Regions from separate parts of the Homo sapiens genome. Here regions 2, 3 and 4 are each reported to be linked to region 1. Evidence: microRNA targets listed by miRTarBase, many of them from high-throughput screens and not tested one by one. Region 1 holds a microRNA gene; each other region holds the end of a gene's coding sequence.

Region 1 (7,852 bases):
GGTTTCACCGTGTTAGCCAGGATGGTCTCGGATCTCCTGACCTTGTGATCTGCCCACCTCGGCCTCCCAAAGTGCTGGGATTACAGGCATGAGCCACCGCGCCCGGCCTGTTTTTGTTTTTGAGACGGAGTCTTTGTGGCCCAGGCTGGAGTGCAGTGGCACAATCTCGGCTCACTACAACCTTCATCTCCTGGGTTGAAGTGATTCTTGTGCCTCAGCCTCCTGAGTAGCTGGGATTACAGGCATGTGCCACCACGCCTGGCTAACTTTTTGTATTTAGTAGACGGGGTTTCACCATGTTGGCCAGCCTGATCTTGAACTCCGGACCTCAGGTAATCCGCCCGCCTCGGCCTCCCAGGGTGCTGGGATTACAGGCGTGAGCCACTGCACCAGGCCTAAGTTTTTCATTTGATACAGTAGTAGTTAAGAAATCAAGCCGTGTGGTTATATTAGGTCTGGTTCATTTTAGCTTCTGTACAGAACAGTCACGAATTAATCACAGTCGGTCCTGGGCAAACTGACCACAGGTTTTTAGTTTCTCACTGTGGAAACAAAGCTGCCTGAATGTCGCTGCTGAGTTGTCTCGGGTGGGATCGCTGGGAGCGGGATCTGGAAGCCTTCCCTTGACTGGTGGCCCCACACTGCCCTGCAAAGAGGCTCCCCATCTTCTCGCTGCCCCTTCTAGCCTTAGCGTTGTCAGACGTTTTTTTCTGGCTTGGTCTTTGAATTTTCTTAATTAAGTAGAATCCACGTTTATTAAGTTCAGTTTTTTTTTTCTTTTTCCTTTGAGACAGAGTCTTGCTCTGTCATCCAGGCTGGTGTGCAATGGCGCGATCTCGGTTCACTGCAGCTTCCGCCTCCTGCGTTCAAGCGATTCTTGTACCTCAGCCTCCCGAGTAGCTGGGACTAAAGGCGCGCCACCACGCCCAGCTAATTTTTTGTATTTTTAGTAGAGACGGGGGTTTCACCATGTTGGCCAGGCTGGTCTCGAACCTATGTAGGCCTCCCAAAGTGCTGGGATTACAGGTGTGAGGCAGCGCGCCCGGCCTATGTTAAGTATTTTATATATGGGATTCTTACAGAGAAATGTTAACAGCAAGCCGAGCACTGGACACTGGGTGGCGGGCAGCAAGACCCTTGCCAGGGAGGGTTGTCGGCCCTGTTTCTCCTGGTCCAGGGGACCGCGGTTAACAGGCGCTGCGGCAAAACTCTCCGTCCGCCCAGCGCCCCAGGAATCTCCTCCGTCTCCAAGACGGGGTCGGACCACCCTCCCCGCTCCCCCCGGCTATGCCTTCCTTGCGCCCCGCTCTCCGTGACCGAGGAACGCCAGGAAGGGACCACTTCTAGCGCCAGCCCCGCTGCTCAGGGTCGGGTGGGGGGCGGGGCCAGCGCGGGGGCGGGGCCGGCTCAGGGGCGTGGTCACTCGGTGGGGCCCAGCGGGACCTGGCCTACCAGGCGGAGCGGGGGCTGGGCAGGGGCGTGGCCAATCGGGACCGGTGGGGCGGGCGAGTGGCGGGAGCGCTGCACCCGCAGATGGGCCCCCCACGTGGGGACCAGCGCCCACCCGGCCTGGTCGCATGGGCAATGGGAGACCCCACTGCAGCGCAAGGTCTCGCGGCATCTGGGAAGACCGGCCTTACGCCGTCCCTCCCTTCGTCAGCAGACCCCTGTCCAGGATCCGGGATCCGGCATAATCGAGGTGCCAGGCTCCGAGGACGCCACGCTTTTGGCCGTGGACTTCCACGCAGAAAGACACTGGCGCCTGAGAGGACGGGGACGACCGTGTCCCGTGTCAGATGCGCCTGGCCCACGGCTGAGTCCCCAGCATCAGCCCTCAGCTCCACGGCTGAGCCCCGGGAGGCTGATTCAGTTATCTGGGCCTCTCCGGGGCCCGACGTGTGGGCGCCGCGCGTGCACCTCCTCTTCCTCAGTAAACCACGGCGGCGACTCCTCTCGGGGAGCCCGGGGGGGGCCTGCTCGGAAAGCAGGGTGGGCAGGACCTAAGGGAACCCACGCTTGCGGGCGTGGGCACGGCAGAGAGCACGGGATGCGGGTGGGCCTCCAGGTCTGGAGGGGTGAGCGAGGCGGGCCCTGAGCAGCAGTGGCTCCGGGCTCGTGGGCCCCGGGTGGCCCCGCCTCCAAGCGCAGGCCCCCACTTCCGCCCTGGTCTGCCTCCTGGCTTTGCTGCCTCCAGCGACTTGTCCTGACGGGAAGGACCCTCCCCCCCCCCAACTGTGGGGAGGACCCTGATGGTACAAATTTGTGGGTGGGGGCAAAACAGCCTGCCTCTTGTGAGACCCAGAGCACCAGGGGGCCCTGTCCCCTCCCTAGGTCCAGGCCAGGTGGCCACCAAGCTATGGGTTCTAGGGGCCCCATCTAGCAGAGCTAGGAGCTGCAGGGCCCAGTTCTACCCCTTCCTTCATCTGGCACAAGTGCAAGACTGGGAATGCTTGGTCCTGCAGGGGAGAAGGCAGGGCCCTCAGCTCCCTCCCTCCCTCCCCATGGGAGTCTCCACAAATGCATGCCTCAGCCAGGACACCTCTCCTGTGCTGTAACCAATCACACCTTCATTTTTCTAAAGCTTTATTTATTTTATAAAATGCATAGAATAAATTATACTAGTAACATTTTAAAAATTAACATCTTTGTATTCAGCAGTCCTGGGTCAGGAGGCAGGAGGAGGGTGGTGGGGACGGGATGGCTCACTGGGCAGCTAACCCGTGTAGGCCACTTCCTCCTCGTCACTGCCATCGGGGACCGCGTCTGTCCCAAAGTAGCGGTCGCCAAAGTTCCCTGGAAAAAGGGGGGGGGGGGTCCAGTGTGGTGGGGCCTCCCAGGGCCACCCACCCTGCCCTCATGTGCGGCTGAAGGGCCCGGGCAGCCTCACCAATGCCTGGGATGATGCGGAAAAGGTCATTGACCCGCTTGTCCACCGCCGTGGTGATGATTCTCACTCGCGGAAATGCATAGGCCACTGAGTGCACGCCCATCTCTGCCATGAGCAGCGACAGCAAAAAGATCTTGTCCTCAGGCACGTCGTGGTCCTACCGAGTGTATTGGGCAGGTAAATCCCACCTCTGCCTGAACCTGCCCCGCCTACCCAGGGCTCACTCACCAGGAGCACGCGCACTGCCATCATGGCCGCCGCGCCCGTGGACACGGTGCAGTCCATGAGGATCACGTGGTCATCGCTGATGTCCTTGGGCAGCCTCAGGTAGTGGAGCTGCGGGCAGCAGGGGTCAGGCTGCAGGTGGGGCTCCCTGCGTCCCCTTGCTGTGAGCTCCCTCTGCCCCCTACCCCCGGGCTCATCACCCCGGCTGCCCCCAGGCACCTCGGGCTCCCCGGTAAGCTGGTTGGTCTGGATGAGGATGGTGCCGATGCGCACGTCTTTGCACACAGCGCGCAGCGCGGGCTCCATGGTTTCACCGGCGCGCAGAATGGACACACCGGTGATCTGCGGGGAGGGGAGGCTAAGCGCCCACATCCCGCCCCAGCAGCCTGTCCCGCGCCCAGGTGTGCCCAGGCAGGTACCTGCTTCCCCGCATAGCACTTGCCCGCATAGTCCTGCCCCTGCGGGGTCTGTACGACGCAGTCCTGTGGGGTGCAGGGTGAGGACTCCGGTGAGCGCAGGGAGCTCGCACCGGCTCCAAGACCCACCCTCCACCTCGCGGGCTACGGGCTACGAACCTGAAAGGGCAGGAAGGAGAGCGCGTGCTCGATGAGCAGCCGCATCAGTCTCTTGGAGTAGAAGATGAACTCGTCGCGACTGGTCTCCTTGTCCCTGTGGGGCCAACAGTTGAGCGGGAGCACGCGCCCGGGGCCGCCCCGTCCCCAGGTGGGCCCTCACCTGATGATGGTGTGCATGCCCCGTACCTGCGGCGTGCTCTTCAGGACGCTCAGCGTCCGGGGCAGCGGGTGGCACTGGTGTGCCGAGGCCAGCGCAGCCCTGGGGACAAACCGATGGGGAACACTCAAGAAGGGGGTCTTTTCCCAGAGCCCTCCCTCCCCACAGGACGGCTGTGCGTCACTGTGAGGGGAACACACGGGCCAGGCACAGCACGAGGTGCAGAGCGGGCCTGACTTCTGCCTGGGGCTGAGCTGGGGGGAGACGTCGCCCTACCTGAGCTGTCAGGCAAAGGCGAAAGATGGCGGCGAACAACGGGGCAAGCTCACCATCAGGCAGAAAGCTAGCGGGGTAGGCTGTGAGGGCCCCTCCCAGTGCGGGACCCCTCCTGCGCTAAGAGGAAGCAGAAGTGGGCCGGGCACAGGGCGGGCTCACACGTGCTGATAGGTGTCATACCCCAGAATGGGTAGCTTGTCCCCAGCCTCTCCCCGGGGGAACTAAAGCTTTGTGGGGTCAGGCCCCGCCCTGGCTCCTCCCCGAGGTGGTGCGCGGCCCCTCAAGAGAGGGGGGTGGGGGGCAAAGCTGGCTCAGTGTCTCTTGGCTGTCCCGTCCCGCCCCGCTGCCCAAGCCTGGGGATGGCCGGGGCAGCAGCAGGTCTAGGAGCGGGCAGGAAAAGGGCGGGGTGGAGGCAAGAAAGAGGTGGGACAGGGAGGAGGCAAAGCCGGAAAGGGGCATGACAGGGGCAGGGAATGGGGCGGGGCAGGAAAGGGGGTGATGCAGGGGCAGGAAGAGGAAAGCGACAGGCCACAGAATTGGGTGTGGCAGGGGAAGGAAAGAGGCAGGGCACGGAATTGGGTGTGGCAGGGCAGAAAAGAGGCGTGACAGCGGCAGGGAAAGGGGCGGGGCCGGGAATGGGGTGTGGCAGGGCAGAAAAGAGGCGTGACAGCGGCAGGGAAAGGGGCGGGGCCGGGAATGGGGTGTGGCAGGGCAGAAAAGAGGCGTGACAGCGGCAGGGAAAGGGGCGGGGCCGGGAATGGGGTGTGGCAGGGCAGAAAAGAGGCGTGACAGCGGCAGGGAAAGGGGCGGGGCCGGGAATGGGGTGTGGCAGGGCAGAAAAGAGGCGTGACAGCGGCAGGGAAAGGGGCGGGGCCGGGAATGGGGTGTGGCAGGGCAGAAAAGAGGCGTGACAGCGGCAGGGAAAGGGGCGGGGCCGGAAATGGGGTGTGGCAGGGCAGAAAAGAGGCGTGACAGCGGCAGGGAAAGGGGCGGGGCAGGAGCAGGAAAGAGGGCCTAGCGGGAGCAGCGGGGCAAGGGGCTACGGGAAGGCGGGTCACACAGCAGCACCACGGAGCACACTGCTCACATATCCCAACGTAGCTTCCTCTGCTTGCCAGGTGAAGAGCATGTTCAGGGAGGGAACAAGGCAGGAAACGGGGGTTTACAGAGAGAAGGAAGAGAACAAAGAGAAGGCTGCTTAGTTGGGGAGCAGGGCGTTCCCCGCAGGCCTGAGGAGGAGTGTGGGCGGTCAGGCCCCCAGCCCTGCCTGACCCTCCCTCCTGCCCCCGACCAAGGCTTCCTGGGGCTGAAGGAAGTGAGTGCAGCCACAGGCCAACACTTCCTTGGCTGACCAGACGACGGAAAATGTGTCTGGCTGCGTTCAGGTGTTTTTCCAAGTTTGAAACCCTGGAAAGTTTTTCCTCTCAGAACAAAAGCTTCAGGAGGAACCTGACGGGACAAGACCTGCGGGTTCCTAGGCCGAGGAGAGGGCCAAGCGGAGACTCATGCAGGCACCGGAAGCTGGACGGCTGGTGGACGGGCCCTGGAGGCATTTCCAACATTTGGCAAACTCTTTGGAGGGCTCTGAATGTGAGGGCTCTCCCTCCAGGTGGCTCAGTCAGGAGCCTCCCAACCCACAGAAGGCAGGGAGAAGGGCAGGTCCCTTGTGGCTGACCCCCCTGCATGCCTGCCCTTGGGGAGGGACAGTGGGATGCGGCCCCGGCCCAGCCCAAGCTTCTTGCTGCAGTTGCCCAGTTCCTGCTGGCAGAGCTGTGCGGGCTGCGAGGACAGAGCTGGGGCAAGCAGGACCCGGGTGGGTGGGAGGACAGGCGCGAGGCCCTCCACCTGCAACCAGGGAAAGCTGACTGGTCCGTGAGGCTGGGCACAGGAGGTACAGCAGGCTCCCTGGCTGCTGGGACATGTCTGTAGTCACTGCCCCAGAGGCCTGGCAGTGCTGGCTCAGGAGGACAGCTGTGCTCTCTGGGGTCAAATCCCATAGACAGACTCAGGAGTCAGGGGAGCCTCCAGCAAAGTCTGGCCAGGACAGGGTCAGGACTCCGTGACGCTGGGCAAGCTACTTCACGTCTCTGTGCCTCAGTGTCCTCATCTGCCAGCAAGGGGAGGCAGAAGCAGGGCTGGGACCACTCCACACCACCCCTTCTGTGACTGGGGAAGAGCCAGCTGCCTGGCTGGATCACAGCCCAGACCCCAGAGCTCCTTGGAGGTGTTGGAAGTGCCTCCATCTGTGCAGACAGCTGTGCAAGTCTTACCTGACGCTGAGTTCACGCTGTGGCAGCAACACAGGAAGACACAAGGGAACGGTGGCGCGTCAGTGACCAGGGCAGGCGGCCAGGCCACCCCCACCCAGGAATGGACATGCTGCAGGCCCGCGGGGACACAGCCAGCCATGGGGGGTGGCAAGCTTCTAATGCCTGTAACCTGGGGACCACCTGGGCCAGACCTGCAGTTCTGCGTTGGGGCAATCAGAGCCAGGACCCTGGGCTCTGTTCTGCAGGCCTCAGGCCTTCAACATCCTGGTAGGGAGTGTGTTCAGAGCCACTCAGGCTCCAAGGCCCAGCCATAGAATGCCTCAGGGAGCAGGGGACCTCTGGTGGGGGTGTCGCTCCTGGGGTGACCCCCTGAGAAAGAGAGGAGCCTGGCCTGGCGTGGGACTCAGCAGTGAAACCCCACAATCCTGGGCCAGCAGGTCATGCCTGTCTTCCCAAAAGCTCAGGCTGGGTGTGCTGAGCGGGCTGCACCCTCGGCTGGGTCCTGAGCACCTGTACCCCCACCCCAGCTTCCTCAGGGAACCCAGGCCCTGCACAGCACAACGGGATGGGGTCTGGGCTGGACAATCTGACTGGCCAAGCAGGCTCAGGACACTCAGGGCTGGCACCTGGCAGGGGACAGTGAACGCAGGGGGATGAGGTGACCAGGCCACTGGGGGTGGTGGCAGCGGAGAAGTGGGTAGAGGGGCTGGGGGCTAGGCCGTGGGGACGTGGGACCCCGCTCACCTCCTCCAGCTGGCTGTGCACGTGCTGCACAATCAGGTCGATGGCCACCGTGTTGCCGCTCCCTGGGGCGGGATGGGGGGGCGGGTGACCGGGGGCTGGGCCGTTGGCCTGCCCGACACCCACCCAACAGGCAGCCCAGCAGGCTCACCTCTGGGGACCACGATGTCTGCCAGGCGCATGGTGGGCTGGATGTACTGGTCGAAGGAGGGCTTGACAAACTTGTTGTACTGCTTGATGACACCCTCGATGTCCCGGCCGCGCTCACTGATGTCCCGGCGCAGCCGCCGTACCAGGCGGATGTCGGAGTCTGTGTCCACAAAGATCTTCATGTCCAGGAGCTGGTGGAGACAGCGGGCCAGTGAGTGGCCAGATGCCAGCAGTGGGCATGGAGACACTGGGACCAGCCCCTGCACTGAGGCCGCCTGGTCCGTGGGCCTGGCCAGAGCCACTTCCCCAGGGCACCCTGGCAGGTGGGGAGGAGTGGGGAGGTGGGGGTGTCTGCACCTGGTCCGTGGGCCTGGCCCGAGCCACTTCCCCAGGGCACCCTGGCAGGTGGGAAGGAGTGGGGAGGTGGGGGTGTCTGGGGATGCGGTGCTGCCCGTCAGGGGCTTAGGTGAAGAGGCATGGCATGGTGGCTGGCTAAGGAATCAGGCAGGAATGGGGCTGGGCACATGTGATCTCCTTACTTTGCTTGGGGTAACTTGCACCAACACACTGG
Region 2 (7,852 bases), not on the chromosome of region 1:
AGTGTCCAGTGCTACGTCGAGCAGCAGCTCTGCACACAGCGTGGACTCGGAGGACATGTACGCAGACCTGGCTAGCCCCGTGTCCTCAGCCAGCTCTCGGTCCCCGGCCCCAGCCCAGACCAGGAAGGAGAAAGGTACTCAGGAGCCCTGGTACCTTTGGGGAGCAGCTCCCGGGGGAGGAGGGCGGCATCAGCACAGACTTTGCCTGGCTGTTGGTGTGGCCATGGGAAAATCACCAGTACCCCCATGACTGCGGATTTATCATTGGTAGGAAAATCTAAGAAAGAAGACGGTGTTAAAGAGGAAAAGCGGAAAAGGGATTCGTCCACACAACCACCCAAATCTGCAAAACCTCCAGCAGGGGGGAAGTCCTCCCAGCAGCCCTCGACACCCCAGCAGGCACCCCCCGGGCAGCCCCAGCAGGGCACATTTGTGGCCCACAAGGAGATCAAGTTGACACTGTTGAATAAGGTGAGGGCAAGGGCCCTCCTGGTGGCTGCCCCAGCGTCTAGGCCTGGGTCCATCTGCTTCCTGAGACAGCTTCCTCCTGGGGGACGGAGCCTGAGTGAGGGCGAGTGGGGCCTTGCAGGTGTCAGCACAGCCTGGGTAACAAAGCGAGACTCCATCTTTCCGGCCTGGGCTGGGAAGTGTGAGCATCTGGGGAGGTTTGGGTGCTGCTGGCCTCTCTCTGAACAGAGAGGGCGTTCTCTTCGTGCCTGTGGCCGCCATTCCCTGCCATGCAGTCTCAACACAATACAGGAAGCCTCCGTCCCTGTCCTCTGTCCTCAGCAGGACACATCCCTGTCCTCTGCTGGAAGGGCAAGAGGCCTGGCTTCATGGGTCCCAGGTCCTCCTAGAGTGGCCCCCGTGGGGAGCAGGAAGGCCTGCAGGGTGCTTCCCCTGGAACGTGAAGGGCCCCAAGTGCACAGTGGGGGTGCCCTTGGTCCGGGTCCTGGAGGCCTCACTCAGGGCTACGGGGTCTCATGGGTGTGTGGTGGGACCTTTGGGAGCAGAGCAGGTTGCTGGCAAGGAACCCATGTCCTCTGGGGCGAGGACACGGCTTCTGGCTCCTGGCCCTGCTGTCCTCACTGGCCTCTCTCTTGTCCCAGGCGGCTGATAAAGGAAGCAGGAAGCGCTATGAACCATCAGACAAGGACAGGCAGAGCCCTCCTCCAGCCAAGCGGCCCAACACATCCCCAGACCGAGGTGAGCCTCCCAGCCCCTAGGGGGCAGGGCAGAGGGACGGGAGCCTGGGGATGCGGAGCAGCTGGGTCTGAGACCCCATTGCTCTTAACAAGTAGGAGGAGGGTCCAGAGAACATCTGACTTGCAGATGATGCCTGTCGGTATTTAGGGTGTTGAAAACTAAAACGAAGAAAAGGTTTTAAATATTTGTTTAAAAATAACAGGACCGGGCGTGGTGGCTCACGCCTATAATCCCAGCACTTTGGGAGGCTGAGGCCGGCAGATCACTTGAGGTCAGGAGTTCCAGACCGGCCTGGCCAACCTGGTAAAACCCTGTCTCTACTAAAAATACAAAAATTAGGCCGGGCGCGGTAGCTCATGCCTGTAATCCCAGCACTTTGGGAGGCCAAGGTGGGCAGATCATCTGAGGTCAGGAGTTTGAGACCAGCCTGGCTAACATGGTGAAACCCTGTTTCTACTAAAAATACAAAAAATTAGTTGGGCGTAGTGGCGTGCGTCTGTAATCCCAGCTACTTGGGAGGCTGAGGCAGGAGAATCGCTTGAACCTGGGAGGCAGAGGTTGCAGTGAGCTGAGATTGCACCATTGCACTGCAGCTTGGGCAACAAGAGCAACTGTATTTTTTTTTACACATGTGCCATTTTTGCAAAATATATTTTCCAAAACAAATGAGCAGGAATGGCATTGGTTTTTCCATTTTTGCAAATCTCTTCAGTCTGGCTGACGGAAGACGGCTGGACCCACATGCCTCGTGCCTTCTGGAGATCCTCCCAGGCTCCTGCGGACTGAGTGACGAGGCAGATAGTGTCTATATTACTGTTGAACCACACAGACCTGAAAGGGCCTCGGGGACCCCCAGCCATGCTGACCACACCCCAAGAGCTGGGGCCCAGATGGAAAGACAGGGAGATTGTCCTGGCTGGCTTTGATGGGTGGAGCTCAAACCAGATAGAGGACAAGGGGGCCTGGCCACCCGCACAGACACTCCCAGACACAGAGAACAGGCAGGGGGCTTCCAGACCCCTTCCCAAGCAGTTCTCTGGGTTTGTCGGACACAGGAAGAGGAAGCTGCTCACCTTTGTCCCTAAGCCCAGGGCCTGTGCCCTGTGTGGCTGGTCTGGAACAGCCTTGCTGCCCTTGCCTGGGGTTGGAACCAGGGCCTCTGGGGTCCTGCGGACCTTTGTTCTCGCACCAGCCTTGGGCCTGCGCTGGGCAGTGGCCCCCCCCTCGGTTGCCGCGCCTCCCTCCTAACATTGCCAGAGTGAAACACTCCTAGTCTCTCGGCTTTGCTTGTATTTCTTTACTGCCATGTCTTTCTTGTTGTTCCGTATTTGAAGACCCATGTGATAAATTTCTTCAAAGCTAGGAAGGAGTTTTGTCTCTCTGCGTGAGATATTGGCTGCTTGCTGGAACCTGGGGCCCAGGTTTGGCCTCAGCCTCATTTCCAGATGCCTTGGTGCCCACATCTCTCTTCTCCTACTTGGCTCTCCCCTTTTTATTTCTTTATAAAAATGAAGGTGGTGAACTAAGCAGCCTCAGGCTTTAGAAGTGAGTCCCTGGCATCGGTGAGGCCACCCACACAGCCATTCCCTGTACATCAGGAGGGTGGTCTCACTCTGTACCTATCACCCAGGTTCTCGGGACCGGAAGTCAGGTGGGAGACTGGGCTCCCCGAAGCCAGAGCGGCAGAGAGGCCAGAACTCCAAAGCCCCTGCAGCCCCGGCTGACAGGTGAGTCCCACCCAGCATGTGCCCTGGGCACACCGAGGGGGCCAGCCCCAGTCGCTTCCCCAGGGAGGCCAGCAGCAGCAGGGCTAGCACTGGGCCAGGCTGGAGGCGTCACTACAGCTCCTGCTGGTCTGACGGGGTGAGGGGCATGGACAGCGAATTGCAGCCCCACCCCCCACCCCCCCCCACACACACACACACGCTCCTGCCCTGGTTGAGGCTGGAGGGTGCCCTCTGCTCCGCATGCCCTTGGGCAAAAGATCCCTGGGCACAGAGGTGGGAAGAATAACAGGAGGTTGTGCGGGGCCAGCCCAGGACCCTCCCAGTCTGCTCCACAAAGCCCGGGAGCCAGTGGCTAGGACCAGGCCTGCTTGTGGCAGTGGGAGCCTGGCCATCCAGGGAGCCCCTTGCCTGTCCTGGTGGCCGCTGAGGACACAGTGGAAGCGCCCCTACGGGGAGGTCACCCCTTCCACCTGCAGACGTGGCTTCTGGGGGCTCAAGGTCTTCCCCACCCCCTTGTAGGAAGCGCCAGCTGTCACCCCAGTCCAAGAGCTCCAGCAAGGTCACGAGCGTGCCCGGCAAAGCCTCGGATCCCGGCGCCGCCAGCACCAAATCAGGGAAGGCCAGCACGCTGTCTCGGCGGGAGGAGCTGCTGAAACAGCTGAAGGCCGTGGAGGATGCTATTGCACGCAAGCGGGCCAAGATCCCCGGGAAAGCATAGGCCGTGCCCCGACCGGACTGGACGCATTTTTATACATAGGGTAAGCGCAGCCATTTTGGATTTTGCAGTTAATGTCTTATTTTGGCTGTGATTCTTTTTAAAAAGTAAAAAAGAAAAAAAAGTTTCTCAGCTGGAAAAGAAGCCACACAGGAAATGACAACGACGCTGAATCCCAGCCTCCCTCCCCAGAGCAGAAGTCCCGCAGGACAGACAGACACAGACAGCGCTAGTGACCAGCACGGTTCTCATGTAAATTACAAGCCCCAGCCGCCAGCCCCGCCTTCTCTTCCTCCTCCTCCGTCTTCTTCCCTGGCCCTGGTCAGGCCTGTGGAGCCCCAGCTCTGGGTCCCTAGCCCGGGTCCAGGCAGCCAGGCTCCCTCCTGAGCTGAGAAACGGAACCTCGCGAACCACTGGTGGCACATCCTTCTCCTCCCCCGCCCCTGATCACCCGCCCCCGGATCAGAAATATATCTATATTCTCGACTAAAGTCTCATCAGGAAATATTTCCTGTCTTTTATTTTAAGCATCAAATTGTTTTAGTTGATTTAAAAAGGAAAAAATACAGAAAAGACCAAAAAAAGGCCAAGGGTGTTGTTGGGGCGTCTGTCTAATGTGGTGGGTCTTTTTTTGAGGGGTCTCCTAAAATAAAATATTTTGATAAGCAGCTGTCCTTGCCCTCGTGGTGTGTGCGCCCTCTGCCCATGCGCAGCCGGGGCTGCCTCTGTGTCGTGCACTGCACTCGGCCCAGCACTCGGGAGCCGCTGGGGGGCGAGGGTGTGGCTGTGCACTCACTCCCCCCGGGAGGACCGGCTGTGGAGCAGCTCCTGCCTTCAGACCCAGCCCAGGAGAGCATTGCGCCTCAGTTTCCCCATTCGTGGGGCTGGGTTGGGGCTTCCTTGGTCCGTGAGGTGGAGGTACTTTCCCTGCAGGGGCCGTGGAGCTGCTGGAGGGGAAGAGGTCCAGGGCTGACTCCCAGCCCCAAGCCCAGCTGCCACCACTGCAGTGACCACCACCGGCTCCGTGTGCAGGCCCCAGACCTGCTGAGCCAGGCCCCGCGTGTGATGCCACGTTCCACAGCAGGGGCCACCGGCAGAGCCCCCCAGGACCCACCGCTGCTGCTCCCTGCTTTCCACCTTGAAAGCCACAGGCCTGCGCCTGGGCAGCGGCCTCCCAGGTGCACGCTCCAGGGCCTCCAGCGCCTCCTTTAATCAGATTCAGGTAGCCGCGGTGTGGTGCCCAGGCCTGCGGCCCACCCATCTCCCTCATCTACTTCCTGACCCGAGGTTCAGGATGAGACCTCCAAGAGAGAGCTCCCTCCCACGGGGCCGCGAGCTGAGCCCCAGGGAGGCAGCATCCCGTGCTTCTGCTCCCAGCATGACCTGCGTCCATGCCACTCTTCCCCTGGATTAAATGACAATTAGAGTGTAGGCAGAGGAGCTGGGCGTGAGCGAGCACCACAGGGGGACCGCCTGTGCACTCCTGAGGGGACTGTTTCCCATTTTATGTCCACCTCCCTCCGATAGCGCAGGCCATGCAGTTCATCTTGTGTCCCAGCGGCCTGGATCATGTGTCTCAGCAATTTTTTCTTTTCTTTTTTTTTTTTTTTTTTTCCTGAGACTGAGTCTCACTCTGTCGCCCAGGCTGGAGGGCAGTGGCACGATCTCGGCTCACTGCAAGCTCCGCCACCCGGGTTCACACCATTCTCCTGCCTCAGCCTCCCGAGTAGCTGGGACTACAGGCGGCCGCCACTACGCCCAGCTAATTTTTTGTATTTTTAGTAGAGACGGGGTTTCACCATGTTAGCCAGGATGGTCTCGATCTCCTGACCTCGTGATCCACCCGTCTCGGCCTCTCAAAGTGCTGGGATGACAGGCGTGAGCCACCGCGTCCGGCCACAGTTTTTTGAGGCTTATCCGATTTGCCATCAGGTCAAAGCCAGGTGCAAGGGAATTCCCATTCTCTGAAAAGGGTGGCCTTCAAGGCCACAGAGCTGGAGTCCAGGCCACCCTGGGTGCCAGCCTGCAGCCTGTCATTTGTGAGCTGCACCATGAGGGCTGGAGGCCAGGAAATGGCGCTCTGTGCCCCCAGTGTGGGGCACCTCAAGCTAGCATCTGCAGTGACTGTCTCTTTACGGCCAGGAGCGGACAGGTGAGCCCACCACAGCTCAACGGCCAGGAGCAGACAGGTGAACCCACCACAGCTCACCTGTGGACTGGGACCAGGCGAGGTCCCCTCTGCGGCTGCTCAGCCCCCGGCCACAGCCCTAGGCACCTCAGTCTGGAGCTGGGTTTGAACTCGCACCGGGTGGCAGTGGACCCCAGGTGTGGCTACCCATCCCTCTGGCTCTTGGACACTGGTGCAGAGGGGCCTGTCCTAGGAGGGTGACTGCCCCCATGTGGTCTAGTGGAGAGGATGTTTGGTCAGGCAGCTGGGAAGGACGGCCTTGCTGTGTGACAGGCATCGATGGGCGTCCACGCCCTCCAGGGACGTCCTGCTCCAGGTGGTTGGCACTCACGTTCTCCTCGCTCCCCATGCAGTGACTAGAAAGCCTGTGTGGGATTCTGGCAACGGCATCCGCCCGCCAGCCCCTCCCAGGGGGTGCCCCAGGGCCTCTGCCCTCTGCCCGCAGCTCCTCCCCCACAGCCACGCTTCCACCCACCCGTTCGGCTGGGCTTTGGGTGGGCAGGCAGACGTAGACCCTGCTTGGAGGCGGTGGCCCTAGAGGGATCCACAGATGGGGAAAAGGCCGAGACACACGAGACCACTCCTGCCGGGGAAAACCCATGAGGGGGTGGGGGCGGCCGCGCCGCAGGGAGGGGCCCTCTGCTGTCCCAGCCAACGTCCCATGACGATTTTGCACCCCCGCCAGCAGTGCCCTCGGCTGGACACACCTGCGTTGTGGGCAGCCGGCAGCGCGTGACCCACTGTGCACCTGCGCCTTGATGTAGGGGGGAGACCCTGCAGAGAGCGCTTCCTTCCGCCCTGTCCAGTGCCCTCCCTGCCTCACCCCTCTTCCCGCAGGCCCGCTCAGGGCGCTGAAGGGCTCCTGACCGTGGGTCCGTCCTTCGCTGCGTCTGGGGGGCGTCCCCCGCGCTGCCTCTGACCCGCCCGGCCCTGCGTTTGTCTGAAGCCCCTCGTTCCGCATCTCCGGACCAGGGTCCGGGGGCGTGGTCTGCTGGGGGCGGGCCCGGGTTGTGGTTTGAGAGCCGCTCGGCCTGTCTGGGCCTCCGCCTCCGGGTCGCCCTCCAGCCTTCCTGCCGCCGCTTTTCCAGTCTTGCCCAACCCGGTATTTCTGCGCTTGCCTCAGCCACCCGCAGGAGCGCAGGCCGCCCTTCGTCCTCCCGTCCTCTGCGCCCACAGGACCCCGGGCCCCGCCCAGTCCGCAGGTCCCGCAGGTCCCCCCGGGCGTGTCTTCCTGGCCCTGCGACCCCCGGGACAGCGCTGAGAACACGCGGAAGGTGGGGAGACGCGCGGCGCTGGCCGGGTCCCTGGCGCCGTTCTCGCGGTGCAGCCTGTGCCTGGGAGTCCGGCCGTCCCACCTCAGAACCAGAGCAAAGCGGGAGATGGGGCGGCGGCCGCTGGGGAGAAGGCAGCCCCGGGTCGGAGGAGGAAGGAGGCGGGGGCGGAGCGGAGTCCGCGGTGGGGCTGCCTTCTTCCATCCTCCCCTGGGCGGGGCGCAGGATGCGGGGGCGCCCAGCCGAGGGAGGGAGGCCGGGGAGGACACTCCTGTGCCCGAGGGCTCCGGCTTCTTCTGCTCACTCCCTCCTGCCGAACTTTTCCACTCGGCCATTTACCTCCTCAGGCACTGGCTGCCCTCATCAGGCCGACCAGGTCCTGCCCGAGGGAACGGCGTGTGTGACCCACGTGTGGACAGACCTGTTCCCCATGCCAGGAGGGAGGGTCACTGGCTCCACCGGGGGATGGGGGACGAGGGCACTAGGCCGAGGTGGGGGGCTTCTCGCTCTCCCCGTCTTTTCCTGGCGTTTTCCTCCATTCCCTCTGGCTCCTATTCCCTCCCCCTTCCTCTCTTTCTTGGGTATGGTTGAGCAGGTCGTGCACTGCACAAGGACTCCCAGCAGAGGACGAGGACTGACATCAATTTGTCTTTCCCTCCCAACACTGTGCGTTCCCTAACCCTGCACGAAGGCACCCTCCTCCCCTCCTCAAGATTCCCCACCCGGCCTGGCCTGCAGCCCTAGC
Region 3 (7,382 bases), not on the chromosome of region 1:
TCTCTGAAAGACAGTTCTCAGGATGTCATGGACAAGGGGTGGTGAGGGTGGCATTGCCCTCAGCTATTTCCTGTCTAACTGTTTTGCCATCGTTCCCACAGACATGTCAAACCGCCCTGTCTGCCGACATTTCATGATGAAGGGCAACTGCCGCTATGAGAACAACTGTGCCTTCTACCACCCGGGTGTCAATGGGCCCCCCCTGCCCTAGGGACCATTTGCCTGCCCTGTTCACACAACCCCTGTGGACTGCAGCCTCGCTCTTTCCACCCTGTTATGGCTTCTGTGAGGCCCATTTTCCCTTTTCCCCAGCTGATGAGGAGCCGGCCCCCTCAGTTCCCACTTGCTTGGGTTCCTGGGGGTTTTCTGATCACTGGTGCGCATTGATGTACATATTTTCCTCCAGTCTGGGGAGGAGAGAGACTGGAAACGTTCCTGGACTGCTGAAGAGGAGACCCAGTTGGCTTCACTTTTTGAGAAGATTCGCCCTGTACCCCAAACCCCTTTCCAGTATTACCCTTAATGCTTGAGAACCTAAAGCTGGTTATCCTGGCGAACACCCCTACCCTTCTATTGCGGGTCCCCACATGCACACAGAACTCTGACACAGGATCAGCTGCACTTAAGAAATCATCCCAGCTAAGTTCATTATTCCTCATGGGGTGGGGAGATGCTGAAAGGGGTATTGTATATCCCACTGCACTGAGAGGGCTCAATCAGCTGGATTTGAGTTCTGGAACACACATCATCCCCACCCCTCCCCCAGCGTGGGCTCACCATTCTTAGTCCTTTCTCAAGTGGGACCTTCAACTTTCTGTGAACACCCAGTCTGCGTCCTGGGTCTGCTAGGTTCGATGATGGCGAACTCGTATCTGCATCCGGTGCAAGTTTTAGCTGGCAGAGGTGAGACCGGTGGTGCTGGTCTGCCTTTGCCAACTATAGCCAGTCTGGAGACTTGATAAAATACTTCAGTGAGACCAGCTTCTCATCAACTTGGGCCCGGCGTGCTGGGCCTGAAAGTCACACTACATGCACTGCCTTTGGGAGTCAGCTCACTCCCTGCTCCCACCTGGAACCTTGCCAGCGTGAAGGAGGCTTCCAGGTACTTCACCCTGTCAACCACCTCTGAATCCCCACCAGGCGCCTTCCTGGGTGGATTCAACAAGATGATTTTGCCCTTTCCCAGTTCTCTCCTTCACTTTGGCATCAGTTGTTTTCTATGAAAACAGTGGATTGGTTGGGTTTTGTGCAGGGTCTTGGGTTAGAGCCAAAATGGATTTGAGGATGAGTATTTTTTTTTTTGGTTTTGTATATTTTGTACATTAATAATAAACAGTGGAAAGAGAAGCAGCTTATTTAACCCCTAGTGTGTTTGGACTTTTTTGAGACGGAGTCTCGCTCCGTTGCCTGGGCTAGAATGCAGTGGTGCAGTCTTGGCTTACTGCAATCTCTGCCTCCTGGGTTCAAGGGATTCTTCTGCCTCAGTCTTCTGAGTAGCTGGGATTCCAGGCACCTGCCACCATGCCTGGCTAATTTTTTTGTATTTTTAGTAGAGACTTGGTTTCACCATGTTGGCCAGGCTGGTCTGGAACTCCTGACCTCGTGATCTGCCCGCCACGGCCTCCCAAAGCGCTGGGATTACAGGCGTGAGCCACCGCGCCCGGCCTGGACTGTTTTTCATTTTTTTTTTTTTAAAAGCCATTACCACCTGTGTTAGATACATTAGTACAAATCTGTGGAATCTGATTTTTACTCCTCTGGAGCTAATGCTTGATCTAACAGTTGCTATTAAGTACTGGTGAAAAAATGCTTCAAAAAGTACATAAAATACTCTAGGATACAGAGTAGATCTCGGCCACAGGGCTCTTTCCTGGTTTTCATCTTTCTGAGTCTTCTTTAACACGCCTCGTGTGTGTTCCTAGAACAGTCCTATCCTGGCTATCGTGCCCTCTAGGATGTGTTCTTGGTCATCTTATCCACATTCTACAGATAAGGGAGGAAATCCTGAGGATGCTGGAGTCAGATAAAGGCCATTGTCCCAGCTCTACCTCTCTACAGCCTGGGTGACCTTAGCCAGGTTAGTGTTGGGTATCAGTGGCTCATGTCTGTAATCCCAGCACTTTTGGGAGGCCGAGGTGGGAAGACTACTTGAGCCCAGGAGTTTGAGACCAGCCTGAGCAACATAGGGAGACCAGGTCTGTACAAAAAATACAAAAAATATTAGGCATGGTGGCACATGCCTTTAGTTCCAGCTACCTGGGAGGCTGAGGCGAGAGGATCACTTGAGCCTGGGAGTTCAAACTCACAGCTATGATTGTACCACTGCAATCCAGCCGGAGCAACAGAGCAAGACCCTGTCTCAAAAAAAAAAAAAAAAAAAAAAAGCCAGGCATATTGGGTCATGCCTGTAATCCCATCACTTTGGGAAGGCGAGGTGGGTGGATCACCTGAGGTCAGGAGTTGGAGACCAGCCTGGCCAACATGACAAAACCCCGTCTCTACTAAAAATACAAACATTAGCTGGGTGCCTATAACCCAGCTACTCCGGAGGCTGAGGCGGGAGAATCCCTTAAACCCAGGAGGTGCAGGTTGCAGTGGGCCGAGATCATGCCACTGCACTCCAGCCTGAGTGACAGGGCAAAATTCCGTCACAAAAAAACAAAGGGTAAGTATAGACTGCTCTTCCCAAAGTGGCTCTGGCCAGGCATGGTGGCTCAAGCCAGTAATCCGAGCACTTTGGGACGCCAACATGGGAGGATCACTTGAACCCAGGAGTTCAAAACTACCCTAAGCAACATAGGGAAGCTCCATTTCCCCATTTCCGCGCCTGGCCTCCACTCTTCTTAAACCAGAAATTAAAGCTGGGCATGTTGGCTCACGCCTGTAATCCCAGCACTTTGGGAGGCCCACATGGGACGATCACTTGAACCCAGGAGTTCAAAACTACCCTAAGCAACATAGGGAAACTCCATTTCCCCATTTCCGCGCCTGGCCTCCACTCTTAAACCAGAAATTAAAGCTGGGCGTGGTGGCTCACGCCTGTAATCCCAGCACCTTGGGAGGCCGAAGCAGTTGGATCACCTGAGGTCAGAAGTTCGAGACCAGCCTGGCCAACATGAAGAAACCCCATCTCTACTAAAAATACAAAAATTAGCTGGGTGTGGTTACTGGCGCCTGTTATCCCAGCTACTCGGAAGGCAGGAGAATCGCTTGAACCCAGGAGGCAGAGGTTGCAGACTGCACCACTGCACTCCAGCCTGGGCAACAAGAGTGAAACTCCATCTGAAAAAAAAAAGAAAGGATACATCACTCTGGGGGGAGTGTGTGTGGCAGATATGGGGCAGTTGAAGATATTAACATGTTTTAACATGTGGGTTGAGAATGGCGGTTTTCAAGTCTGTTAGCATTCATCAGGATCATCTGAAGAGCTTATTAGAAAACAAATCTGGGGCCGGGTGCAGTGGCTCATACCTGTAAACCCAGCACTTTGGGAGGCCAAGGCGGGTAGATCAGGAGGTCAGGAGTTCGAGACCAGCCTGACCAACATGGAGAACCCCCGTCTCCACTAAAAATACAAAAATTAGCCGGGCGTGGTGGCGCATGCCTGTAATCCCAGCTACTCGGGAGGCCGAGGCAGGAGAATTGCTTGAACCCGGGAGGTGGAGGTCGTGGTGAGCCGAGATCGCACCATTGCACTCCAGTCTGGGTAACAAGAGCGAAACTTGGTCTCAAAAAAAAAAAAAAAAAAAAGAAAGAAAAAAAAAAACAAATTTGGGTTGGATGCAGTGGCTTATGCCTGTAATCCCAGCACTTTGAGAGGCCAAGGCGGATGGATCACCTGAGGTGAGGAGTTTGTGACCAGCCTGGCCAACATGGTGAAATCCCATCTCTACTAAAAATACAAAAATTAGTCAGGCATGGTGGCTCGCGCCTGTAATCCCAGCTACTTGGGAGACTAAAGCAGGAGAATCACTTGAACCCGGGAAGTGGAGGTTGCAGTGAGCAGAGATCACACCACTGCACTTCAGCTTGGGTGACAGAGCCAGACTCCATCTCCATCTCAAAAAACAAAAACAAAACAAAAAGAAAAAACAGACAGATTGGGGGTAGGGTCCAGCAAAATTCTGATTTAGTAGGTCAGGATGGATCCCGAGATATGCATTTCTAACAAATTCCCAGTTGCTGAGGCTGCTACACTGCCCTGGAATACGTGTCTCAGCTGTATTTCCAGCATTGGCCACATGAGGGGGCAACAATGTTTTATCAGTATCTGAAAGGCCTCACTGCATGTAGGCCCAAAGTGGGTAGTTTTACCTTCCCCTTGCCCAGGCTTGGTGTGTGTGGGCGGAGGTGTTCAGGTCAGTCTGTTGTTGCTGTGTGCACTGGGAGAAGACCTGAGAAGACATAATCTAAGGACCAGGCTAGGGCGTGAAATACCAAAGAAGTATACAGCTCAAGTGAAAAAACCCAAACATGTCACAACCTAGTGGTCACAACTTTGTGTCTCTTTCTGCTTCCATTTACTGCCTGCTTCTCACCTTTCTTCTATCTCCTGCAACAAGCCACAAGAACCTTAAAAGAGAGCTTAAAGTTTTTACTGTATTTTAAGAATAAGCTCGGCCGAGCGCGGTGGCTCACACCTGTAATCCCAACACTCTGGGAGGCCGAGGCGGGCAAATCCCAAGGTCAGGAGATGGAGACCATCCTAGCCAACATGGTGAAACCCCGTCTCTATTAAAAATACAAAAATTGCCAGGCGCGGTGGCTCACGCCTGTAATCCCAGCACTTTGGGAGGCCGAAGCGGGCAGATCATGAGGTCAGGAGATGGAGACCATCCTGGCTAACAAGGTGAAACCCCTTCTCTACTAAAAATACAAAAACTTAGGTGGGTGTGGTGGCGGGTGCCTGTAATCCCAGCTACTGAGGAGACTGAGGCAGGAGAATGGCATGAACCCGGGAGGTGGAGCTTGCAGCGAGCAGAGATCGCGCCACTGCACTCCAGCCTGGGCGACAGAGCAAGACTCTGTCTCAAAAAAAAAAAAAAATTAGCCGGGAGTGGTGGCACGCACCTGTAGTCCCAGCTACTTGGGAGGCTGAGGCAGGGGAATCGCTTGAATCCAGGAGGCAGAGGTTGCAGTGAGCCGAGATAACGCTACTGCATTCCAGGATGGCGACAGAGCAAGACTCCGTCTGAAAAAAAAAGAAAGAATGAGCTCATTTTCTTTCAAATCATTTATGAAAATTCGGCCAGGCGTGGTGGCTCACGCCTGTAATCCCAGCACTTTGGGAGGCCGAGGCGCGTGGATCACCTGAGATCAGGAGTTCGAGAGCAACCTGACCAACATGGTGAAACCGTCTCTACTAAAAATACAAAAAATTAGCCGGGCGTGGTGACTGGTGCCTGTAATCCCAGCTACTCTGGAGGCTGAGGCAGAAGAATCGTTTGAACCCAGGAGGCGGAGGTTGCAGTGAGCTGAGATCGTGCCATTGCACTCCAGCCTGGGTGACAGCAAAATTTCATCTCAAAAAAAAAAAAAAAAAAAATTCAAAGAAACCTGTTTTTTTTTTTTAGACAAGTTTCACTCTTTTGCCCAGGCTGGAGTGAAATGGCACGATCTTGGCTCACTGCCCCCTGGGTTCAAGGATTCTCCTGCCTCAGCCTCCTGAGTAGCTGGGATTGTAGGCACCTGCCACCACGCCTGGCTAATTTCTGTATTTTTAGTAGAGATGGGGTTTTACCATGTTGTCCAGGCTGGTCTCGAACTCCTGACCTCAGGTGATCCACCCGCCTTGGCCTCCCAAAGTGCTGGGATTACAGGTGTGAGTCACGGCACCCGGCCTACCTGTTCCTTTTTACTTACGTAAAAACTTTAGATTATATAAAGAGAAGATTTTCCTTGTTTTTTGTTTTTTTGCAGGGGGAGAGAGGTTGAACATTTCATTCATTTCACTACAATGATGTTTCTTCACCAAGCCCTCCCTGCAGGCACTTTTCTCTCTACCGTTTCAGTCTGTTTTTCCTTTCTGCTTCCATTTTTTCCCTCTAAAATACCCTTGTGACATTCAACGTTCTCTTTCTGTCAATCCTTCCCCAGGTGCAACGGGGTCTATCTTCAATTCAGAATCATTATCCTATTTCTTTCATTCCTACTCCTGGGCAGTAGACCTAATGTTGAAAAATCACAAAATCCTACTATCTTAGCCCAGTACAAATTAATGTTAGCATTGATTCTACACTTACTGCTGCTCAGCAAACCTTTTTTTTTTTTTGAGACGAAGTTTTGCTCTTGTTGCCCAGGCTGGAGTCCAATGGCATGATCTCCGCTCACTGCAACCTCCACCTCCCAGGTTCAAGTAATTCTCCTGCCTCAGCTTCCTGAGTAGCTGGGATTACAAATGCGTGCCACTACTCCTGGCTAATTTTTGCATTTTTAGTAGAGACGGTGTTTTGCCAAGTTGGTCAGGCTGGTCTCGAACTCCTGACCTCAGGTGATCCGCCTGCCTCGGCCTCCCAAAGTGCTGGGATTACAGGCATGAGGCACCGTGCGCGGCCTACTCTTCTTGATTCTCTGGCACCAAAGCTTGGGAAAAAGTGAGTCCCATCCACTGTGAGCAACATTTTCCCTTCCCTTCACATGGAAATATCTGAGTCTACATTATCTCCCTTCCATTCCATTCTTAGATGAAGAGAATCTTCTTTCCAAAGTAATATTGAGCTGTTCTCCTGGCATCTCTTTTCCCTGTCTCCCCACACCCACTATTTGCCACCTAGCAGCCAGGAGCAATTTTGTAAAAATGAAAACTGAATCAGTTTGCACTCCTGGCTAAACAGAACCAATGGCCTCCCATTGCTCAGCCTCTCCTGATCACATCCCAACCTGCTGTCTATGCATATAAGGCCCCGTGTGTATTGGCGCATGCTCAAGTTCTCAGCTCCAGCCATTCCTTGACCATGTTCAGCTCTTTTCAGCCTCAGGGTCTTTGCACATTTTGGTCCCTTCCCTGAAGGCTCTTCCTTTCCTACCTTCAGGCTTTGGCTTTAATGAGGCTGAGGTGGGAGGATAACTTGAACCCAGGAGTCTGAGACCAGCCCGGGCAACAAAGCAAGACCTCTTTGCTACAAAAAAATTAAAAAATTGGCTGGGCATGTTGGTGGACACTTGTAGTCCCAGCTACTTGAGAAGCTGAGGTAGGAGGATCACTTGAGTCCAGAGGGTTGAGGCTGCAGTGAGCCATGATTGTGCCACTGCACTCCAGCCTGGGAAACAGAGGGAGACCACATCTCAAAACAACAAAAAACACATTTCTACGATGTTTACTGTGTACCACATATGTGCATCACTTGTAGGTAATAAGCTGTTTATAAATAAAACAATTTAAT
Region 4 (7,667 bases), not on the chromosome of region 1:
CGATTCTTGTGCTTCAGCCTCCCGAGTAGCTGGGATTACAGGCACGCGCCACCACGCCCAGCTAATTTTTGTATTTTTAGTAAAGATGGGGTTTAGCCATGTTGGCCAGGCTGGTCTCGAACTCCTGGCCTCAAGTGATCTGCCTGCCTCGGCCTCCCAAAGTGCTGGGATTACAGGTGTGAGCCACTGTGCCCGGCCATCCTGTCTTGATTTGTATTGTGTTTCATCTGTCAGTGCAGACCCATAGCCTAGGCTGGTGTGTGAGAGTGTAAAGGTATTGTGATTATATAGGAGAAAGTTCTTGTTCTTAGAAGAAATGGACTGAAGGATTTAGGGGTAAAGCTCGTGTTGGCAACTGATTTTCAAATGGTTTAGAAAACATGTTTGTGAGTAGCTGGACGGAGAAGATAAAGCACGTGTGGCAAAATATTAAGAAGGGATTGATCTGGGTGGAGGATCTGGGATGTTCATTGTACTGTTCTTTCAGCTTTACTGTAAGTTTGAAAATCTTCCAAGTAGAAGATTAGGATAAAGGCAATGGAATGGAAACCTGAGGAAGAGCAGAGGCCTGGCCTGGGAGGAGGCCATGCAGCTCATGCAGAGGGGCCCTGCAGGGTGGCGCCACCGCCTCTCAGTGAGCGCTGCCAGAAGGTCACTTTCTCTTCTTTCGCACAGACCTCCTGGTACCCTCTCTGCCTCAGCAATACTCCCAGTCAGTGTAGTCTCCTGGCTCCAAAATTCCTGAGAGAAGGGGAAGCTGTTCACTAAGCAGGGCTCCAGACTGCCAGCTAGCCAGTGGATCGCTGCCTGTAAACCAGATGCTGACCTGTGTGCCCATCAGCTGTGGACTCGGGCCATGAGTGCCACTCGTGGTCATGGAGGCCTGCCCCTGGGTGGAGGCTGTGGGCTGGGGCAGATGGCAGAGCCCCTACCTACAGACAGGTCCAGTATGGTTGGCAGACACGATCTGTGCCCCCATTTTTCTGATTATATGTCATAAATGTTCATCATACAAATGTAGATGATAATGATAAGTATTTGTGAGGCAGTGATACAGAACCTGGGCCGAGGGTCAAGACTGGCTGAGTTCAGATCACCAGCACTTACTCTGTGTCCTTGAATAAATGATGTCAGCAATCTGGGCCTCAGTGTTCTCATCAGTGGAACTGCTGATAATACCAGCTTCATATGGTGGCTGTGAAAATGAAATGAATGAAATGAAGTAATACTTGTATATACCTAAAAGCCTAAAAGAAGCTTAAAGTAACTCCACACTCTGGTGTGTTTCCTTCTGGTCTGTTTTTGCCTCTGATAGTATTAATAGGATTATATAATGTATCCTTTCAAAAATATATAGTTTTATTTTGTTTTCCTCCCAATTAACATTGTATCATGCTTTCTCATATCATATGCTTCTTTGAAACATGAACTTAGAGTGGCAAGGTGTTCTCTGAGATGGACATTCTGCTGTTTTCTCTTTACAGTTTCAGAAGAGGAGCCCCGCCGAGGCATGAGGGCCGTGCTCCCCCCAGAGGAAGGGATGGTTTTCCTGGTCCTGAAGACTTTGGTCCAGAGGAGAATTTTGATGCTTCTGAGGAAGCGGCCCGAGGACGAGATCTCAGAGGTCGAGGTCGGGGTACCCCACGAGGTGAGCGAGTTACTAAAGACACCTGGTCTGGAAGGATAGGGTGCAGAATACACTGGTTGTGAATACACCAGGAACAGTCTGAGTGCAGCATTGTTTGCTCTGTTGTGTAGGAGGAAGGAAGGGTTTACTTCCCACTCCTGACGAGTTCCCTCGCTTTGAAGGAGGGCGGAAGCCAGATTCCTGGGATGGAAACAGAGAGCCTGGTAAGGAAAAGAACCGCTTGTTGGGTAACTCTAGACTGCAGTTCACAAAGTGAGTTCTGAGGGCCCTCTCTGGGGTGCACCGGGTCTCCTCTTTCCAGCTCATGTCTCCCGGGGGGCTGGGCTGTCTCCTGTCCTGCAGCCGCAGCACTTGATCTCAGCAGGTGGAATGCAGAGCAGAGGAATCCGCCAGACATTACAGGGATCTATCTGAGTATAAAACGGGACTGCTCTTTCCACTAAATTGCTTTTGGAGAATAAAGTTAAGTGAATTAAAATTTCCCCAGTCTCAATTGCTAATATGGTAAATATTCGCAGTTACAACTCTCATTAACAAAATCTCTTAGGAGTCCTCAGTAATTTGAGACTGTAAAGACGTCTTGATACTACAATGCCTGAGAACGAGTTCTCTGGATCTTACCTGCCCCTCTTACATGAGGAGGCACCCTGATGTCTGGGTGGCTTACCCTTTGGCCTCTGGCGGGCATTCAGCATGAGTGAACGGTGGCTCTCGAGTTGCTCCTTACTCTCACAGTGTCATTCCCATCTACTTCTGGTCACACTGTGCTTTCCTGTAAGGAGATTTGTTTCTTGTTTCAGGGCCAGGTCATGAACATTTTCGTGATACTCCCCGCCCTGATCATCCCCCTCACGACGGTCATTCCCCAGCCAGCAGAGAACGCTCCTCTTCTCTCCAAGGCATGGACATGGCATCCCTACCTCCCCGAAAGCGCCCCTGGCATGATGGCCCAGGCACTTCTGAGCACAGAGAGATGGAGGCCCCAGGAGGCCCTTCTGAAGACCGAGGAGGCAAAGGTAAGAGCAGGCCAGTGGTTATGGTTCCAGGAGATGCAGGGGCCGATGGAGGCCTTGCCTGTATCTGCTGCACATGCCCTTGCAGCCTGGGCTGTGCAGAGGCACATGCTCCTAAATGTGGTGCCAGTGCCACACGAGCTGTCATCTGGTGGACTGCAACTCAGCCCTGCACAGGACTCCACTTGCCTCCGGGAATCCCTGTTCACTTGAGGTTTTCACTTCAGCCCTCTGCCAAGATGCCCCAGCACTCTCTGCTCGGCTTGCTGTCTGGGAGCCCTGCTCTCCTTGGCAGTCTGCCCTCCACAAGGCTGCTTGGAACCCTCAAGGGCTCTCAGTGGGAGGGGAAGAGTTGTCCTCTCCTGGGTGGTCTGTTGGTTTTTTTAGCCTGGGTCTAGAGGAACACTGCTTGTGCTCAAAGTCACAGAGACTTTGGGAAACATGGTCTATGGGCAGTGTTTCCAGGGGCACAGTAGATTATCTCCTCAACTGGGAACTGTGGAGCTTTATGTTATAGGCAGCACTAACTTTAGCCAGGAGTAGTTGCCTCTGAAGGCTGACTATACAACTCTGGTTGCAAGGCAGCGGGGGAGGTGCATAGGTGGTGTGGCTCGGAAGCTTCTGGGAAGGCTGCTCCCCGCATGCCCCAGCTTGTGCTCTGCTCCTGAAGTTGGCCTGTCTGTATGGACGGTCCTTCCAGTACAGAGTTCTGCCATTTGGTCTTTTTGGGTTTTTTTCTGTCGCCCAGGCTGGAGTGCAGTGGTGTGATCTTGGCTTACTGCAAGCAACCCCCGCCTCCCAGGTTCAAGTGATTCTTGTGCCTCAGTCTCCCCAGTAGCTGGAACTACAGGTGTGCGCCACCATGCTTTTGTGTTTTTAGAGAGATGGGCTTTTGCCATGTTGGCTAGGCTGGTCTCGAACTCCTGGCCTCAAGTGATCCACCTGCCTTGGCCTCTCATGAGCCACCATGCCTGGCCTGCCATTTGATCTTGATAGTTGTTTGTCTCAACAAAACCCTCAGAAATTACCTTATGTATCATCAATAGATCACCCTGCATAAACACATTGTACTACTAGCCAGTGTGCTGTGACCTTGGCTGACTTTCTTGGGCACTCAGCACACCATTATTAGGTCCCTCTGGTCAAGGACATGCAGTTAGCATGGGAATGATGTAGTAGCTGACACTCTGCCCAGGTGCCTCAGGTGGGTTGAAGCTGCACTTTCTAAGAAAAGAAGCCAAGATTGTTCCTTTGGCTGGCTCTCCTAACTTCATCTCAGCTAGATTCATATTCTATTACAAAATATGAGACAGCGGAGAGTTTGCAGTCATCTTCTGAGAGTGCATTATGGGAGATGTGACCAAATCCTATCATTTCCTGAGGAAAAAAATCTTACAAGATAGAATTTTTTTTCCTTTTCCTTTCTTTTTTTTCTTTTTTTTTTTTTTTTAAATATATTCTCAAGCTGCAACAGAATGAAAGAATTTTAATAGTACCTAAACATTTGTGCATACTAGTCTGAAGCAGGTTAAGCTGTGCCTCGGTGATAGAACCTGAAAGCCAGTGTTTTGTGGGGTTTTTGGGTTTTTGTGCTTTTCTTTTGTTTTTTCAAGAAATACTTTATTTTACTAATTATGAAAAGGAAGCCAAAAGTGCCACATGTCACGGGACAGTCCCAGTGAACGCTTGTCCTAGTTGGAGCACTTTTTATTAACATTAGCAGTGTGTACTTCCAAAGTTAAGTCAGTATATTCAAACCTTCCCTCAATATACCCTGGTGGCTGGGAGCAGGCAGATACACTTCCCATGGCCTGGGACATGGCCCAGTGTGGCCCGGGTCTCCCTGAAGGTGCTCCTTGCTCATCTCTTGGCTTCCTGTCGTCTGTCACACAGCCCTGGGGGCATGGATCTGGCTGATGCTGAGGCCCATGGCCATGAGCCAGGAAGGGGGAGGCAGGGTCAGGAAAGGGTAGAGGCACACCTCTCAGTACGCTGAATACCACTGCCAGTCTCCCTGGCACCCACCAGAACTGGTCCATTGTCATCAGAGAGTAAAGTTTGTACTGGGAGTTACTGACAAACAGTTGCTAATACAAAAAGTCCCATGTGAAATTTTCTTTGTTTCAGGCCGAGGGGGCCCAGGACCTGCTCAGAGAGTGCCCAAATCTGGGCGTTCCAGCTCCTTAGACGGAGAGCACCACGATGGATACCACAGAGATGAACCTTTTGGGGGCCCTCCAGGCAGTGGCACCCCTTCTCGAGGGGGCCGGAGTGGCAGTAACTGGGGTAGAGGGAGTAACATGAACTCTGGCCCGCCGAGGCGAGGAGCTTCACGGGGTGGTGGAAGGGGTCGGTAGAAGCTGGAACTGAGTACCCTGAGGCCTCTCTGGACAGTATGTAAGAACTTCTTGTGGACTCACCAAGAGAAACAAAAGGAAGCCTGCACCATTGTAGCCCTGAACTCTTTTCTGGGCACCTGAATCCCAGGAACCCTCAATGAGGTCTTCAAGATGAAGAGACTGCTGCCAGCTACCAGCCTGGCTGGCCCTGTCCTGTCCACCCTCATTGCCCCAACTCCCATGTTGTTTTGTGAAGATAAAAGCTGGGATCTTTTTCTTTTTTTTAAGTCTCACAAGACATGGGGCATCTCCACAAATTTAAGTTCCTGTCCATTTGGAAATTTGTTTCTATGTGTACAGTTTGTCAGAGAAAAACAAAGTTTTTGTATGAATACAGAATGTGATTTACGCAAGAATTGACAGAAAACTAGTTGTGAAGTGCTTGCCTTAAGGAAACCTTTGGTTTCCATCGCATCCCATCTGCCAAGGAATGCACGGTTGTTGCTGATGTTCATGAGCATATTAACCACTAGGTTATCTAAATTAATCTCAGCTGTGAACTTTGTGTTTTTCAACACATTCTGTCACACCATTTTTGTGACAGAAAAATACTTGAAAATTATTCTAATGTAGTTTGTAGTAGGTTCAAATTTTTATTCAGACATGCTCTGACAGATGGAAAATTGTACTCTGAAGAGAAAATGCAATCTTCTGGATGTCCAACGAGGGAGCTTCCCCTTGGAAGCATCTCCTAAGAATCACAGTTTAGGTTTGAATCGCCTTGTTATGATGAGGAGAGGAACTTGATGTTAGTCAGAAATAAAGTCACATGCCCTTTAGATAACTTGAAATCACACATGGAGTTGATAAGGAATGGACCAAAATAGGTCCTCAAACAATTTTGCAACACTTAATTAAGTTTTCCTCTCTTCCTCTTCCATACTATGTGGAAATACCAGTGTTACGGCAGGGCGTACTTCTAACTCACAGTAAGCCAGATAGATCTTGTCCATGGCAAATTCCTTGTTTAAAATAAACATACCATTTAGCCCAGTTTGGATTGGAAGCCAAAAATTCAGTTTGTTATATACCCCATGATACTTTCTATACTGACCTTTATTTTGGTTTTACATGGAAGCTTTTATTAAAAGGACTGTCCTATGGCCACCTTAACATTTCATTACATTGGCAGCTTCAGTTTTGGCATCAGTCAAATTTATTTGGCAAATTTAGTGGTGCTGGAAGTTTCTTTTTTTCTTTTCCTTTTTTGACAGAGTCTTGCTCTGTCACCCAGCCAGGAGTGCAGTGGTGCAATCACGGCTCACTTCAGCTTTGACCCTGCCTCAGCCTCCCTAGTAGCTAGGACTACAGGCATATGCCACCATGCCCAGCTAATTTTTTGTGTGTGTGTTTTTTGTAGAGATGGAGTTTCACCACTTTGTCTATGCTGGTTTCAAACTCCTGGGCTCAAGCGGTCCACCTGCTGTGGCCTCCCAAAGTGCTGGGATTGCAGATCTGAGCCACAGTACCTGGCCGCTGGTGCTGGAAGTTTCAATGGTTGCTTAGAAAAGGCATACTGATATAGTTTAACAGGATATGAAAATTTAACTGGTTCTCTATGAATGTAAAAAACAGCAAAAGCTAATTGATTTCTGTGGAGTGAGAAAATGTCAGCCATATACACTGCTTTTCAGTGTTAGAATCTAGAGACTATTTTTTTTTTAACTTTGAAATTACAGCTTATTTAATCAGCGCTCCACCATAAACATGCTATTAGGAGGCTCAAGATTGCTTTAGGTTATGGGTATTTCTTCACTCACCCCCAACTGGTATAGCTTAAAGAGAGAGAAACTGTAATCAAATTTCATGAAGCTAAAACCGGATCCAGAGACCAAACCCATATCAAGATTAGACTTTTTTTCCCTGAGATTCTAGTGGAAAAATTTTCATTATTTTGGGCTTTAACTTTAGAAACATAGTATCTCAGTAAGCAGATAACCAGATCACATTTAAAAATTTTCATTTTACCTTGAAGCTCTACTGGACTTGACAGATCACATTTTGAGAGTGAATTCATTTAAACAATAAACCTCTACATTATACTTATTAAATATATATGGCATTTAAAAACATCACTGTCAGCATACATACTAGATGTTGTGATTTGAAGCTTATAAAAAGTAGATTTTCAATGATGTTTGATTTGAGAAAAAATTTTTGAGACAAGGTCTCGCTGTTGCCTAGGCTGTGGTGCAGTGGTGTGATCACAGTTCACTGCAGCCTCAACCTCCTGGGCTCAAGTGATCTTCCCACCTCAGCCCCACCCCAAGTAGCTGGGATCACAGTTGTGTGCCACCATATCTGGCAAATTTTTTGAAGATTTTCTGTGGCGATGGGGTTTAACTGTGTTGCCCAGGCTGGTCTTGAACTCCTGGCCTCAAGTGATCCTCCCGCCTTGGCCTCCCAAAATGCTGGGATTACAGGTGTGAGCCACCAGCTGAGAAATGTTGAATTTTTAAGTTTTTATTTAAGAAATAAACATTGTAAAACATCATTATAAAACCCCCAACTATTGCAAGTTCTAGAGAAATTTAAAACTAGAACAGAAATTTAGGGGACTAGAAAGAGCAGCCAATGGCACAAGTCTTTACAATTAATTAAAAAAAT

The links. The annotated mature microRNA hsa-miR-1914-3p reads GGAGGGGUCCCGCACUGGGAGG and lies in region 1 at 4,212-4,233, opposite strand. An mRNA with a match to its seed (bases 2 to 7 or 8) in the 3' UTR can be bound and repressed. Matches are read on the target gene's strand: a 7mer-m8 pairs with bases 2 to 8, a 7mer-A1 pairs with bases 2 to 7 and ends in A, and an 8mer does both.
Region 2: miRTarBase lists ZC3H18 as a target of hsa-miR-1914-3p. The part of its 3' UTR that is shown has no 7-base or 8-base seed match.
Region 3: miRTarBase lists PPP1R10 as a target of hsa-miR-1914-3p. Seed matches in the 3' UTR shown: 7mer-A1 at 329-335 and 7mer-m8 at 754-760.
Region 4: the mRNA of WDR33 is a reported target of hsa-miR-1914-3p. The part of its 3' UTR that is shown has no 7-base or 8-base seed match.

The regions. Positions count from the first base shown.
Region 1 is chr20:63,937,263-63,945,114 of GRCh38, forward strand. It overlaps MIR1914 (microRNA 1914), which reads right to left and starts at 4,282; the gene lies at 4,203-4,282. It overlaps UCKL1 (uridine-cytidine kinase 1 like 1), which reads right to left. Exons shown (of 15, transcript NM_017859.4): 6 at 7,283-7,472; 7 at 7,135-7,196; 8 at 6,391-6,407; 9 at 3,848-3,946; 10 at 3,688-3,781; 11 at 3,532-3,594; 12 at 3,332-3,454; 13 at 3,116-3,223; 14 at 2,888-3,044; 15 at 2,567-2,793. The coding sequence ends at 2,714. It overlaps MIR647 (microRNA 647), which reads right to left and starts at 5,464; the gene lies at 5,369-5,464. RefSeq lists enhancers at 5,056-5,769, 5,770-6,481.
Region 2 is chr16:88,627,649-88,635,500 of GRCh38, forward strand. ZC3H18 (zinc finger CCCH-type containing 18) reads left to right here. Exons shown (of 18, transcript NM_144604.4): 14 at 1-134; 15 at 272-471; 16 at 1,110-1,206; 17 at 2,837-2,933; 18 at 3,453-4,316. The coding sequence ends at 3,651. It overlaps LOC124903755 (a long non-coding RNA gene), which reads left to right and starts at 7,360. Exons shown (of 2, transcript XR_007065181.1): 1 at 7,360-7,852. RefSeq lists enhancers at 1-662, 663-1,377, 5,785-5,854, 7,126-7,852 and silencers at 6,715-6,764, 6,865-6,924, 6,965-7,044, 7,265-7,424.
Region 3 is chr6:30,594,378-30,601,759 of GRCh38, reverse strand. PPP1R10 (protein phosphatase 1 regulatory subunit 10) reads left to right here. Exons shown (of 20, transcript NM_002714.4): 20 at 102-1,347. The coding sequence ends at 211. Among named protein-coding and RNA genes, the nearest start is that of MIR877, 14 kb to the right of the region's middle.
Region 4 is chr2:127,703,674-127,711,340 of GRCh38, reverse strand. WDR33 (WD repeat domain 33) reads left to right here. Exons shown (of 22, transcript NM_018383.5): 19 at 1,485-1,648; 20 at 1,759-1,851; 21 at 2,449-2,664; 22 at 4,789-7,667. The coding sequence ends at 5,018. SFT2D3 (SFT2 domain containing 3) reads right to left here. Exons shown (of 1, transcript NM_032740.4): 1 at 6,099-7,667. Among named protein-coding and RNA genes, the nearest start is that of SFT2D3, 6.0 kb to the right of the region's middle.